Linked DNA regions of Homo sapiens: region 2 is linked to region 1. The links come from fine-mapping of genetic effects on gene expression. Tissue or cell type: lung. Region 1 holds a variant in brackets; the other region holds the start of a gene. All regions are shown on one strand. Distances are from middle to middle.

Evidence for each region. PIP is the estimated chance that this variant, and not a neighbour inherited with it, causes the effect.
Region 2: it holds the start of KEL, and the variant in region 1 is fine-mapped to the expression of KEL in lung (TOPMed, PIP above 0.99).

Annotation. Positions count from the first base shown.
Region 1 is chr7:143,038,495-143,046,274 of GRCh38, reverse strand. It overlaps LOC105375544 (a long non-coding RNA gene), which reads left to right and starts at 5,343. Exons shown (of 2, transcript XR_001745395.1): 1 at 5,343-6,883. The variant C/T (reference allele first, on the strand shown) is at 4,770.
Region 2 is chr7:142,958,860-142,966,639 of GRCh38, reverse strand. It overlaps KEL (Kell metallo-endopeptidase (Kell blood group)), which reads left to right and starts at 4,277. Exons shown (of 19, transcript NM_000420.3): 1 at 4,277-4,436; 2 at 4,768-4,845; 3 at 5,139-5,280; 4 at 5,536-5,712. The coding sequence starts at 4,434. RefSeq lists a cis regulatory region at 1,794-2,195 and a silencer at 4,318-4,513.

The DNA.
Region 1 (7,780 bases):
GCCAGATATCCTCTGACTGGGGGCTTTTCTGCCCCAATCTCCAGCTGTCTTCTATGACATCTCTGCAGATTTTCACTGCTGGCAGAGTTGAGAGTGGGAGTTTCCTCCCTCAATTCTGACTTACTAACAAATCAGGGGATGGGGTAGCTCCCTATTAATGCACAGAAATATGTAACTGCTAGATTTTCAGACAGATTGGAGGAAGAAATTATCTCACATGATAATACCTGTAGGCTGGAATCAGACAGAAAATAGTTTTCTTGAGAATTGATGTGGGTCACCTGGAGAATTGAAGAGTCTAGCAAGAGGGCACTTGCCTGGTGGTGGATGGAGATAGGAGCTGAATTAGGGCCCCTGAGTAAAATTGTGTGGCTTGTAGACTGTACAAAGGTGGTGATGGAGAGACTGAAGGGGCACATGGGGGCTGAAGGAGCTGCATCTACCTGATGGAAAGGGGCACCCATTTTATGCACAAAGATGATACACAGTACTTGTGCCAAAATGTCTTGCTTTATCCTCCCAACTGATCCCAGACAGTTTGCTTAGATGTCTAAAACAAATACAAATCATAGGCTTTATTTGATCTACTTGTCAAATAAGATTGTCACAGATGTCACATATGGTCACTTTTGCCATACTTTTATGAGTCCAAGCAACACAAGATTCAAGAGGCAGGGGCATAGAGCCATATCTTTTTTTTTTTTTTTTTTTTGAGACAGAGTCTCACTCTGTCACCAGGCTGGAATGCAGTGGTGTGATCTCAGCTCACTGCAACCTCCGCCTCCCAGGTTCAAGTGATTCTCCTGCCTCAGCCTCCTGAATATCTGGGATTACAGGCATGCACCAACATACCCAGGTAATTTTTGTATTTTTAGTAGAAACAGGGTTTTACCATGTTGGCCGGGATGGTGTCGATCTCCTGACCTCGTGATCCGCCTGCCTCAGCCTCCCAAAGTGCTGGGATTACAGGTGTGAGCCACCGCACCCAGCCAGAGCCATATCTTAATGGGAGGAGTGCCAAAAAATTTGTGGCCCTTTAAAAAACCTGTCATGGATAAGTCAACAAAATTTTCTTTTTCTAAGGCTTAGACTACTCTGTCAGATATCTGATCCTGAATGGAAAGAAAGACACTAACTCACCCCACTCTCTTTTCACTCCCCTTCTCAGAGAACAGGAGGCTGCAGTATCTGAAGTCAAGCTTGTTCTGATACTACACTGTATTTCTTCCTTTTTGTCCATTTATGAGGAAGGCAGACACATTGCCCCACTGGGAGTTTTATATCACCCAAGCTGCAAGCATCTCTGAAACATAAAAACAACAAAATATTACTCTGTCTATCACACATGCACATCGCGAGGCCTCAAAAACATCTTGCTTTACTCCCACAACTGATCCCAGACAGTTTGCTTAGATGTCAAACACAAATACGATTCATAGACCTTATTTGATCTACTTGTCACTAAGCTTAAAAACCACACAGCACAGTCTTGATTTTTGCATATATCGTAATACGTCTCTTAAAATGTGTGATAAATTTTTGTGTAACACATTCTGTTAATGAATGCTTATTTTTCAGTTAACCATTTAGCTCTCAAAAATTAGAGAAAAATTTATTTTAACAAAAAAAGCAAGACTTTTTAAAAAGTTTCTTTATCTGTGAGGTTTTTCTTGGTAAAAGAATCCATGACTCTTGGAAAATTTGGTAAGGGTTATACAACTTATGTTTTTCTTTACATAAATATTCCTACATATCTGAGCTCAAAGCATTAGTAAATGTTTGTGTGATATAAAAACTGATCCTAAAACCTGTTTTCTATTAATATTCTAATTTTTCAGAGTAAGGAAGGGGTGGAGCAAGGCAAATAAATCGTGAATGATATGGGCTGCAATGGTAGACAAATGACAAATAGGGATGTCTCCTGCACCTGGCTGGAATGGCTTTCAATCCTTAATCATATTGACAATAGTGGCTGCATGGTGGCTCATGACTGTAATCCCACCACTTTGGGAGGCTGAAGCAGGAGGATTGCTTGAGCCCAGGAGTTCGAGACCAGCCTGGGCAACATAGTGAGACTCCATTTCTACAAAAAATACAAAAATTAGATGGGTGTGGTGGTGCGTGCTTGTAGCCCCAGCTATTCAGGAGGCTGAAGTGGGAGGATCACTTGGGCCTGGGAGTTCTGCAGTGAGCTATGATTGCACCACTGCACTCCAGCCTGTGTGACAGAGGTAGACCCTGTCTCAAAAGAAAAGAAACAAAACAAACAAACAAAAACATTGATAGTAGCTACTAACACCAGCTACTGCATGGTAGAGTTTGAATTTGAATCAGATCTGATCCCAAAGACTCTGCTCTTAATTTTTATGTCATTTTGTCTCACCAACCTAAACATAATCCAAACTTGTATATCATTACATTGCTTATTGATTTATATTGATTATATAAAAGATATCTTGCTGATTGAATGAGAAGAATATGAGAGACATAGGAGAAAAAAATCACATGTAATGACTACAGATTTATTCTGGAGTTAACCTGTGAGGGAGAATTATTATATTCAGTTTTTAGATAACAATGTAGAATCTCACAGAGCTTAAGTAAATGTCAGTGTTTCTCAGTCATCACATGTTGGGGCCTGAGACCGAAGCTCTGATTTCACCCACTTCACACACTGTCCTTTCCCTCTATATCATGCCAAGAATAGTAATGCTATGACTGTTTCAGATATTCTGTAGCTCAGCAGTGACAGAAACTGTGAAACTGAAATTACTTACATTATTTGATAAGCTAAACCCAAAATTCATGAGGAAGAGAATAAGTAAAACAAACAAACAAACAGAAACCCAGACGTTTATAATGGACAAATAATTGTTCACTCATATTTGTTGTCCTTCCTGGAGGTGACCCTCCCAGTGGGAATATCACATATTTTTGCTCCATTAATTCAGGAGTGGTCGAGTGATTTTCTTCAGCCAGTGAGATATGGGTAGAAGTAATGAGAGTCACTTCATAGCAAGAGCTTTAAGGGTTGGCATTTGAGTCACATTCCCTTTTTCTCCACATCTGAGATCATGGAAGAATGTGTTTAAAGGGAGCTTTCTACTGCTCCAGTCCCTACAGTATAATAATGAGCAGAGTCTACTTCCTGGCTAGTGATGGGCGCATGGCATGAGTGAGAAACAAACATAGTTGTTAAAAGCCGTTGAAAGATTTGAGTTATTGGTGACTTCAGCGTGACCTTGCTGTAGCAGATGTTGTTAGTGTTACATTCTAATCCCTTAAGTTTCCTTTCATCGTTTCTGTGTTAAGCCCTATGTACCTTTGTGGTCAGAGATAAAGAAAGGCCAAGGTTCACAGGAGAGAGCCAGTGTGGATGCGAGAAACACAAAACCAGAGAGGCGAGGTGTTAGAAAAGCAGTAATGGAGAGAAAGTGAGAGACAGAGAGACACAGGAGGCCCAGGAATGCAGACAGAAAGCTAGAAGGAATAAAAGGTAACCCAAGAGAAGCAGCAGAAGTGACAAAGAAAAGCAGAAATTGTGAGCAGAAGGAGGGAGGAAAGGCAGGCAGGACACGGGACTGAGCATGGCCAGAGGCTGAGCACAGAAGCCAGTCTAAAGCACCCCTGTGAGGCTTTCTAGATGCCCCTCTGCTGAGAACTCTCACTCAGCCACATATTTCCAGCTTTCAGCAGCAGCAGCAAAGCCATTCAATTCAGGAAGCAAGGGGAGCCAGAACAGAGAGACAATAAGATCCCTTTGGGGTGACCATCTGCTACATGTTTACAATGGCTGAAGGCAGAAAGGGAATCAAGATATTTAGATTCAAGCTCTGGAATCCAGGCAAGACCCATTGGATGCTGCTGCTCTGACAGTCCCTGAAAGATGTGTGTGGTATGTGGATTGCACTGGACTTCTAGCTCTGCTTCTTAAAATGCTGTGACTATCCTAGTGGACCACCCTTCCCTGACATGACTCACTCTTGTATGGGGGCTGACGGCACAGACCTTGGACCGTCTAGGTTTATATCCTGGCCCTGTGAATTGCCAGTTGTATGACCTTGGGCTGATACTAATCCTCTTGGAGTGGAATTTTCCCCAGATGTAAGATAAAAAATAGTAGAGCTAGCGTGAGCATCAAATTGGATTATGGCTGCCACATAGGAAGAGTTCAATAACAGCAGTTTCCGCTGTTGTTATTGGCATGGAAACTTCATTCTCATCATCTCCCCTTCTAACCCAACCGCCAACCACACTTCTTTAACGTGAAGGTGATGGGTTTGTGTGTGTGCGTGTGTGTGTGTGTGTGTGTGTGTGTGTTGATGCATCTATGTATGGGTCCAGCAGTGTGCTGGCTGCACACTTTAATTATAGTTAACTGAATGAATACCTTTAGAGATCCATAAGTAGTAAATAAAATCAGAAATGAGAGCACACAAATGAAGCCCTGAGAAGACACATGTTAGCTGTCTCTCTGGAACCACAGGTATTTCCTAGAACTGTATCCTGGCCATCAGCAATGACATCTAATCACAGAAGTGGATCTATCTCCCTAAGCAGTAAGCATGCAACCCTCTCACTAATCTTAATGCCAAGTCTAAACTCATCTTGACTAACCGAAACCGAATCCTTATAACTCATTCATTCTCCAGACCCAGCCAATGCATCTTAATTCATAAGTCCAGCATGGCGAGCTTTTCTTATTAGGTCATTTACTTCGGCGGCTTCCTGACTGTGGTACCCAGATTTTGACACGGAGACATAAGCCC[C/T]TTGGGAATGGGGCAAGCAACCCTGGCCCTGCTTTGCAAGTGACTCCACAAGTTAGAATCTGTCAGCAACTTTCATTGAGTCTGTGATGAAGAGACTTACTGTTTCTCCCTATACAGCCCAGGGCAGCAGTATCCATGACTGATGTCAGGCTGGAGATAGCATGGAGGTGGCAGGGAAATCCAATGAGAATGATTCTCTTGCTGTTCTTTGCTCCCAGGGATGATGGTGCTGTTCACCCACTCTGTTTTGAAACCTTTGGGTCTTGCTGATTTTAAGAAATGAGCTGGGCCAAATGGGAAACTTTAGACTCCAGCAGGGTGCTCCTTGTGGGAACAAGGGAAAGCCAGGAGTCCTTTGGGTTGTACAACGCTGATGCTTAAACTAACAATGGGTACAGTCAGACAGCAACAAGAGGCAGATGAGGACTGGGTCCAGCACCTCAGTTGTGTGTGTGTGTGTGTGTGTGTGTGTGTGGTGGGGGGCTTTGGAGTTCGACCTGGGTTTGAAATGTAACATTTACATAGTAGTTGTTGACTAAGCATTCATTAAGTAAATGTAACGCAGATAAAAATCTGGAATTTTATTCAATAAAAAATCCCCAATATTATGGGGATAGTAATGCCTCCCTCATAAGGTTAATTTCAGAATTAAATAAAACATGTTATGTAACACACTAGTACAGGTCGTCTTGGGGTATAGAAGAGCATGGTAGATGTTAGTAAGCTGACAAGAGCAAGCTAAGTTTGTTTAGCAATGCTCTTCTCCAGCCCTTTCCTGCTGTCTGGCCTCACTATCCCAGTGTTACAGGATGGAGGAGAGTCTGAAGCTTCAGGATCCCCAGCTGTGAGGTCCCCTTCCCCCTTTCTCCACTGCTCAGTCCCAAGGGGCTGTGTCTCCCTGGCACTCCAGCAACCATCCCAGACACTGACGTTGTCATAAACTGCACACTTACGCTCATGGATCCTCTTCATCATGTCCAGAGGCACATTTACTTATCATTATTGATAAGGACATGCCACACTCATTGCTGAGGTATTTATTGAGCTTTTACTGTGTTCCAGTATGTAACTTATTCACCTTAAAGCATCTGTCTTTGATTATAAGACTGCTGATCTTCAAAAGCACATTTGTGAGTCTCAGAATCTCAGGGTTGCCAGGATTCTTGAAGGTCACTCCACTCAACCTACTGGTGCTTCATTCCCTGCTGACAACAGCTGACTGCCTCCTGTAGAAGGGTGGTCTAGGAGTTCCCGGTCACTCATGTCAACTCAGCTAGTAAACTGCAGCATGACCTTAACAAGTCACTCGATTTCTGAGTTTCAGGCTTACAATATGTAAAACGAAGTGTTGGAAAACATTATCTTTCCATTGCTGATATTCTTTGGCCCTTATTAATATCATAGTCATTCTAATCTCTTGTTTCTCCACATCCAAATATGGATGCCCTCTGTGTCCCAACCCAGATAGAGGAGGAGGTATTTTTTTTTTGCCATGGCAGGCCTCTAAGTTTGTTTTTTGGGGGCTCTCTCTCTCTTCTCCCTTCCTTGTCACCACCTTCCCTTTGTCCTAGAAATATGTATTACATTCACAGAATATCTGGAAAAACCAAAACCCTGGATCTATACCTTATGCTTCCAAAAAATAATAAATTCCCGATGGCTCAAACAGACTTAAATGTAAAAAGTAAAAAATGGGATTTTTTGGTTTGTTTTTAATTTCCTTGGAGTATGAACATAGGCTTTTCAAAGGAAAACACGGATCCCGGGAGTCTAAAAGACTGTTAAGTGTAACTGCCTAAGGATGAAATATTTATGCAAGATAGAAACAAAACATAAAAACAGAAACATGAAATAAAGATTTGTTTGATTTATGCAAAATGTTCTCTTACAAACCTGTACATTCATTAAAGAAAACTGCAAATGATTTTTTAAACATGAAAAGAACTCAATCTCACTGTAAATTAAAAAAACAAACTTTAATAAGAATTGTTTTTGAATAACTGTTATTTTTTAGACAATGTACTGAAGATACAGCAGTAAACAGAGTGGACATGGTCTCCCCACTATGGAGCATATTTGATGAAGACCGATGTTACCATACGCTATAAAACCAGGTAAACACACACACACACACACACACACACACACACACTTACAAAATAGTGAGTTGTTTTGAGCAAGAAACTACGTGGTTGTCTTAGATCTGGGAGTGATGAGGGAGAAGATGTTTGGACAGACCTGTGATGAGGTCACAACAGAGGCTTAAATCCTACGGGGAGCTCTGAGCTAGGACGGCTTTCCAGAGTTGTCCTGAATTGTGCCCAGAGTTGTCCTGAACAGAAACTTGGGGCCTGGGCATTATACTTCTGCATCCATAGGCCATTGGATGCAGGCTACCTTAGAGGAAGGGCTATAATCTTGGGGAAGGTGTTTCTCTTTGATTGGGAGCAATTTGGGGGTAATTAGCATCTTGGTTCTGAATGGGAGTCCGGGCAGCGCACTGCAGCATTTACTGTAATATCTGGAAAGCCCCTGGCAGGGAACCTGAACATGGATATGTCTGTGAGGTTATGGGAAGCATCTATAGGAGTAATCATTAACTGGTATCTGGTGCTAACTAGGCACAGCATGGTGGGAATCACAATGAGCACTCTGAGAGATGGAGCAGCGTGCCATTACAGGAGCACAAAGGATGTCAGTGTCACTGAGCAGAGGAGTGACACAAGATGACATTAGAGAAAGGTATTTCTAGAAATCATGCAGAGCCTCACAGGTCTCAGGACTTTAACCAAATGGCAGAGAGAAAGGTTTTAATCCGGGGAGAGACCTGATCTAGTCTGTGTTTTAAAGGATCACGCAGGCTGCTATGGGGAGAACAGAGTAGACAGAGGGAAGCGAGGGTAGATGTGAAGGTCAGTTAGGAAGTTTTGTGGCAGGTCAGTAAGGTTTGTTCCTTCTCATTTCCTGTTTTGTGGGTAATGTCTCTGCCACTGGGGTAATAATCCTATCTC
Region 2 (7,780 bases), 80 kb after region 1:
CAAAAAAAAAAAAAAAAAAAAAAAAAGAATAAATGCTTGTTCCTCTAACCATTGAGTTTTGGGTGGTTTGTAACAAAGCATTATTATGGTAGTAGTTGACTAAGACCTTGGTTTTAGCAAGAACTTATGTAAATTTTCTTGAGGAAACATATGTTGAATTGACACAACTTATTAGAGTCTCTGTATTCAGAGTACTATCTTCAAAACCTGTTGGATTAGGAAGAAAAATGTGGTGGCATGTAGAAAATACCAAAAAGAAAATAAAAAAGGACAAAGATCCTCCTTTTGAGCTGTTTCTACCCATACATAATTAAAACTCCAGACTTCTGAGCATTTTCTTCAAGTTTTTGACATATTCAAGTACCAATACAGCTATTATTTGTTTAGTATATTTTAGTTGATTTAATAAAAATACAGAGGCTATGTATTTTAGTCTTCTTAGAGTCATATATCTATAAAAGAAAAATGTATATAAAAATGAAAATATTGGACCAGGTGCAGTGGCTCATGCCTGTAATCCCAACACTTTGGGAGGCCAAGGCCAAGAGATCGAGACCATCCTAGCAAACATGGTGAAACCCCGTCTCTACTAAAAATACAAAAATTAGCTGGACATGGTGGCGTGCACCTGCAGTCCCAGCTACTCGGGAGGCTGAGGCAGGAGAACCGCTTGAACCCAGGAGGCGGAGGTTGCAGTGAGCCAAGATCACGCCACTGCACTCCAGCCTGCTGACAGGGCGAGACTCAGTCTCAAAAAAATATATATATATATTATATATATTATATGTATAATATGTATTACATATATAATATATATAATATATATATAATATAAATATATATATAATATATATAATATAAATATAAATATATATATAATATATATAATATAAATATATATTTATATATATACACACACACACACACACACACACACACACACATATTGAAAGAGGTCCATCTACTTATCACTTAAATTATTTCAAAAGCCACTTTGTGGTATACTGAACTTACAAGCTACTCTTTCCCAAAGGAGCTCCCCAATTCTCAAGTATTGCTTCCTTTGAAAGAGCAATCAGTGCACCCCAAAACCTGCCCCCCATGATCTGTTTCTCCATCATCTTCTGGGCAAAGTCCTCAACATTGCTTGTGATGTCAAGGCTTACTTCGGTTCACTCAGAACTGGGTTTATTGTTCTTTAGGGGGTAGCTTCTTAGTGGCTATCACTGCAATCGAGTGATCTTAGAAGCAAATTGCCAGTCATGTGCACACTTGAGAGTGTCACAATAGACAGATTAATGTCCTGTCCTTGATTTTGATACCACATCCACTGTAGATGGCAGCTGATTATGGATAGAACATTGTGGCAAAGGCCATGATCTTCAGATGATGAAACTGGATGTTAGAGAGTTTGAGAATACTAGTCCCCAAAACTGTCACCTCACAAGGCCAAGCAGTGAAACATAGTTTAAAAAGAAGAGTTTAGATGAAGGAAGATGTTTACTATGAAGAAACTTCCAAAAAACAGATACTTAGTGACTGAGAGGCTCAATGGTTAAGGCTTTGGTTCAATTCTCGGTTCTGCTAATTATTAATTTTGTAACTTTGAGTAAGTTCACTGTACTTTCATATCTCTCTGACCGCTCATCTATAAAATGGGGAAAATAAAAGCTGTTATTTCCCTCAGAAAGTTGCTGTGAAGACTGAAGGAAAATGTACAAGCAAAACATTTAGCACATTCCTAGCACAAAGAAGGTGCTCCGTAAAAAGTGGTTATTTTTATTATTACCAATATTTTATTTTGATACTATTATGGCATGAAACAAAACCTCCTGGAATTAAAATAAACAGACAGGACAATTGAGGGCAAGAAGGAGGCAGCATCCGAAAAGATAAATGTGGTCCATGTGCCACAGCTGTTAACACACCTCTTCTCGGGGCTTAGATCTGAGTGAAGGCTGCTGCACTCCCGTGACTGGGTATGGCTGTGCTGGTGATGACTCACCATGGAGTAGGATATGGGTGATAAGAAGAAGTCCTGCTCCTGAGACAGCTCCCAGGATGGAGGTTGCTTGGCCTTCAGGAGGAGGCTGAGTAGGAATGGTGGACCTGGCAGCTGTGCTGCCCTATCCCTGTGGCTGGCTCAGCTTCTCTGACAGGGAGAGAACCTAAGTCCAGGCTGTGGTGGCTGTCCATAGGCAAATGTCACAGAGCACACTCCATCTTCAACTTTCTCTTATCAAATCTAAGTGGTCTCCATTATCATCTTCCTAGGGAAACATCAGCTCAGGGGCTTTGATTGATAGAAAAGGAGTGAGGAAGGGAATATGTGTGAAGGAAGCTAAAAGCCCATGGGGAGAGTATTGGACTTTCTGTGGAAGGGAAGTTTGAAGAGGAGGCACCATCAGGGTGTACCCACACAGACCAAACACCTCTAGAATCCTGAGTCAGCTTTTTCCCCTCACTCTGATTCCTACTCCCCCCTTAATCAAAATTCCATTGTTCGCTGGCATCACTATTCCCCTAGTCATGCAGAAATGCAACTTGGAGCTCCTCTGTGGCTCTATCATAAACCCCTCCTCCATTCAATCCATTGCCATGACTTTATTCCATACAATTTTTCTTTCTACGCACTTCCCTCCCCTCTGCCATCCCCTTGGGCCGGGCCCTCCCTTCATCACTCCTGCAACACCAAACTAACCACTCTGTTTCTTGTCTTTTATCCAATCAGTCCAGATCCCCAATACCACACCGGCGTTTCTTAGATATTATTGTATCTTGCCACACCTTTCCTCAAAAGCCTTATTTTTCCCAATGCTTTCTTTTCTAATGTATGAAGTTCTGACTTTTCTTTATGACTTTCATGATACCCGACCAGCTGGCCCCAGGGGGCACAATGGCTTTACTCCACTTCTCCACACCCACCCTCATCCTGGCAAGTGCACCATGGCCCTAGCACAGTGCTGATGGAATCTGGAAATATCGCCAGGGGATCATTTGCAAGACTAACCTAATAAATTACATTATTTTTTTCCTGGGATGAGGAAACAAGGACAGAGTTGAAACACCTTCCCCCAGAAATGTGCTTGCCTCTCTCAGACCACAGGTAAGGGCTTAATATGATGTGAGAAAGAGGATTTCTGGCTTGGAATGCAATTCATTTCTATTAACATTTAGAAAGCATCTTGGGTGGGCAGGAATGAAAACCAGACACTGTACATGCTATGACATAGTTTTCAATCACTAAGGAGATGAAGAGGCAAGCTATCAGTGTAACAGAAAGCAGAATGAAAGAAAGAGGGGCTCAGTAAAGCCTTATTCTTTTGTAGAAGGCATGAGATCCTATGAGGTAGGCATAGGCAAGTATTACCCTCATTTTCCAGATGACAAAACTTGCTTACCTGCCTCAGAGTTTAAGTGGCTTGTTTATTGTCACAGAGCTAATAATTAGCAGATTAGGGTCTCCTAGCTGGGTGATCTTTTGAATGCATGACTTTGCCAGCAGCCAGCAGAGCTATGAAACACCGAGAGAAACAATTAAGCATGCTTGGGAACAGTGTGAATGGGCATGGAGCTGGGAGGCCTCCTGGGAAAGGTGGCATTTGACCTGGGAATTGATGAATCCCAGAAAAGCCAATCAGAGAGGTGTGAAAACAAAATTAAAATGGAGACTGGGCCTGAAAAATTCCCAGGCAAACAAAGCCAAAGACCTTAAAAATAGCCATATTCTTGCTAAAACTACAAACATAAATTAAACTTAACTTGGGTCAATTTCTGATAAATGCTTACAACAAATAAAACTTAACCCCAGCCAATGATAAGCAGCCAACTAACATATGATTATGTGACTAGGGACTTTCCAAAAAGTTACCTAAAAAATGCAATTATGTAACTGCAAACTAAGCAAATAATGTTTCATTTTGCTTCTATAACTTCCCAATAAATGCTTGCCTCTGACATTTTGTCATCGCAACACTAAACCTTTGTCGGTCTGGTGCTCCCCAATTCATGAATTGCTTCTTACTTAAATAAACTCTTTAAAATTTTACTGTGCCTCATATTTTTTTTAATACAGAAGAAATGAGAGAAGGAAGAATATTTTAGAAATAAAGGAACTTCATGGGCAGAGTCACAGTGCAAGACAAAAGGAGCAGACCAAGGGCAAGATTGCTTGGGGAGTGAAGACTCCCTCCCTCTTCTCCCCTGAGAAGCTGAGATAAAGGGGGAGGAGAAGCCTGGGTGCCCCCCACTGATAAGCAGGCTCCACCCAGAGGCCAGTCCTGTGTGTCTGGGGACAAGGCGAAAGAGCAGCAGAAGTGCCCCTTCTCCAGGATCAAGGAACTGGGGCGGGGGGTGTTTCCTGGACCCCAGTCCTCCGAATCAGCTCCTAGAGTGGAACCAGGAAGGATTCTGGAGCCACAGAAGATAGACAGATGGTAAGTCCCCTTTTGGAGTCAGAGGCTTAGCGGGGAGGGGTGAGGGTGGCTGTGTGCAAAAGTCCTGCCCCCACTGGAGGGGAGGGAATGTAAGGCTTACAGAGTAGAAAGGTGGGGAGAGAGGGAGGTAATGGGAGAGGGATCGAGAAATGGCACATTCAGGGGACAGGTTCGTTCTGAAGCCCATCTGGGAACACTGCTCCGAGATAAAAATATGTGTGTGGGGGCAGGGCAGGCAGCGAGGGTATCAAAATGGCCTGATAAAACTCTCTTCAATGCACCATTTCCTGAACCAGCTTCTCTCTCCTCCTTCTCCCTCCACTCACTTCAGGAAGGTGGGGACCAAAGTGAGGAAGAGCCGAGGGAACGCAGCCAGGCAGGTGGAATGGGAACTCTCTGGAGCCAAGAGGTAAGTGGCCTCCTCTCCTGGGTCTGGAATACACTGATGTTGTCACTCTCGGCTCTAAAATCCCACAAACACTCATCTACTAACTGTCTGCTTCATCCTCACCCAAAACAGTTGACATTCCTTGTTTTCTCATCTCCCAGGAGTTAAAGTAGGGCTGGGTTTAGGAAGAATTGGGATAATTATTTCTGTATAAAGGGACTGTAGCACCAACAGATTCATTCTCTCTCCTCTTCTTCCCATCCCTGTCTCTCAACCCCCATCTTGTATCTTTCACCTCTTGGTTCCTCCCACAGAGCACTCCAGAAGAGAGGCTGCCCGTGGAAGGGAGCAGGCCATGGGCAGTGGCCAGGCGGGTGCTGACAGCTATCCTGATTTTGGGCCTGCTCCTTTGTTTTTCTGTGCTTTTGTTCTACAACTTCCAGAACTGTGGCCCTCGTAAGCAAGATCCCAGACCCCCTAACCTAGTCAGCCCTCCCCCAGCCCTGGGGCCCAGGCCCAGTCCCTGCTCCTGGGGCTTCTGCCCACCCTGACCCTTGGGGTCCCCATGGTTCTTCTTCCTCCCTGCATCCTAACCATTTCTTTTTCATCAGCTCCCCACTTAGTTACTCACCTGATGTTCTTTGCCTAGCCCCTTGGGGGAGCCCTTGTCTTTTTGCCTCTTCTTTCCCAGCTCTGAGCTTTTCCCCACAGGCCCCTGTGAGACATCTGTGTGTTTGGATCTCCGGGATCATTACCTGGCCTCTGGGAACACAAGTGTGGCCCCCTGCACCGACTTCTTCAGCTTTGCCTGTGGAAGGGCCAAAGAGACCAATAATTCTTTTCAGGAGCTTGCCACAAAGAACAAAAACCGACTTCGGAGAATACTGGGTGAGGAAAGCAGGGTGGAAGATGCTCTGTGCAAGTGGGTGACTCTGTGCCTAAAATGACCATGACTGCTCCAAACCCTGTGTAGTTGTGGAACAACTGATTTGCACCATCCCAGGTGGGATTATACGGGTGGATGATTGGAGATGATGGGGGAGTAAAAGAGGCAGGATGGCGGGAGCTGCCTGGGTTTGCTCATCTCTCACTGTTTCCTGTTGCCTTGCCTTGGGTACCCTTCTTCCGTTTCTCTTGGTCCCTTTCTGCATTTTTTTCTTTATCTAATTTCCATCTTCTTTGCTTCTCCATGTATCCATAATTACTCCATTCTCTCCAACTTGTCCCTTTTAGCAAGCTCCATCTTTGTTGCTTCCTCCAAATGTTCAGTTTCTATCCTATGCATGGTGTTTTCCTCCACAAGCATCTCTTCAGCATCTCCTGCATTTCAATTCTTTTGTCCATCACTCTCATTCTCTAACCTCCAAAACCTCAGTCTCCCAATGACTCCTTGTCAACATTACCCTCTCCCTCTCACCATGCCGGAGCTCCCCTCTCTCACAATGATCTCTTGCTTCTTGCTTCTCCATTGAAACCTTGAACCATGGCAAGCAAGTTGACCTGGAACAAGTGGGATGTTAGAGATGGATGATTGGAGATGATGGATGATGGTGGAATGAAAGGGGTAGGATGGTGGGGTGAGAAGTGAGAGAGGGCTTCATCACTGTGCATAAGAGAAAAAGTGGGTAAGTACAAAGGATATGCTGGAAGAAGAGGAGAGCTGAGTTAATTGGCAGTGGAAGTAAAGTTCCTGCAGATGGAGGCTGGAGAGGAAAACTGCCAGGACTGAGAGGAAAACCAGAAGGATGAGCTGAAACTGAGTAGGAGGTTGGAAGTGCGTCCCAGGAAGTTGGTGGATGGTGGTGAGGATTTGGGAATAAGAACATATAAGATAGACATGCATTTCCAGTGCAAGGGAACCTAAAGAATGTGTTGACACTATCAATTAGAATCTGGGAAAAGTAAATGCACCCCTCTGCCCTCTTTTTTTGATGGGGAAAGAGTGGGAGGGGGCCTCTCTTTGGGTAAATGGATACTTTCAGGGAAGGCACAGAGATAAAAAGAAAAAATATGCTCAGGATAAATTATATTGCCTACAATGGGATGAATAGATATCAGGGGGACTGAGGGTGAAAAGAGTGTTAGATATTAGAGGGTGGATGATTCAGAGAGACTTGCATTTGATTATTGTAGTGTGTTTGTTTCCTGGGATCAATGGATGAGGAGTCTGGACTAGAAGAGTCTTCCCCTGTTTCTTCTCTTTGCTAAACCTTTCCTTATGAGTTTTCTTCTCTCCAAATCCTTAAAGTTCTCTAGTTCCCTGAATTTGTCTAATTTCTTCAATCATTTCTTTTGTCTTTCATTTCTCTCTTTTCTCCTTTGCCCATATCCCACTTATTGCTACCTTTCTCCTTTCTTCCCTGTCTTTTCCTTCTTGGTTTCTTCCCCACATTTCTTTTATTTTCCATATTGTCTTCTTCTCCTCATTCTCTTTCCCTGCTTTCATCATTTCATCAAGTTGATCCATTCCAAATTGGGCAGTCCTCTCATCTTTCTTATTTTCCTCATCTCTATTCCTCCCCCTCCTTCCATATTCTGTGGGAGTCTTTCTTTCCTGTAAGCTCCCTGTCTCCCACCCTCCCTCTTTGCCTCTATACCAGTTGCCACTCCTTTAATTCTCCTGCCGACAAAAAGAGTCAAACTCTGTAAAATATTTGAAAAGATTTATTTTGAGCCAAATATGAGTGACCATGGCCCATGATACAGTCCTCAGGAGATCCTGAGAACATGTGCCCAAGGTGGCTGGGGCACAGCTTGGTTTTATACATTTTAGAGAGTCATGAGACATCAATCAAATACATTTAAGAAATACATTGGTTTGGTCCAGAAAGGTGGAACAACTCAAAGGGGTGGGGGTGGCTTCCAGGGTACAGGTGAATTTAAACATTTCCGGATTGACAGTTGCTTGAGTTTGTCTAAAGATCTGGGATAGATAGAAAGGGAATGTTCAGGGTAA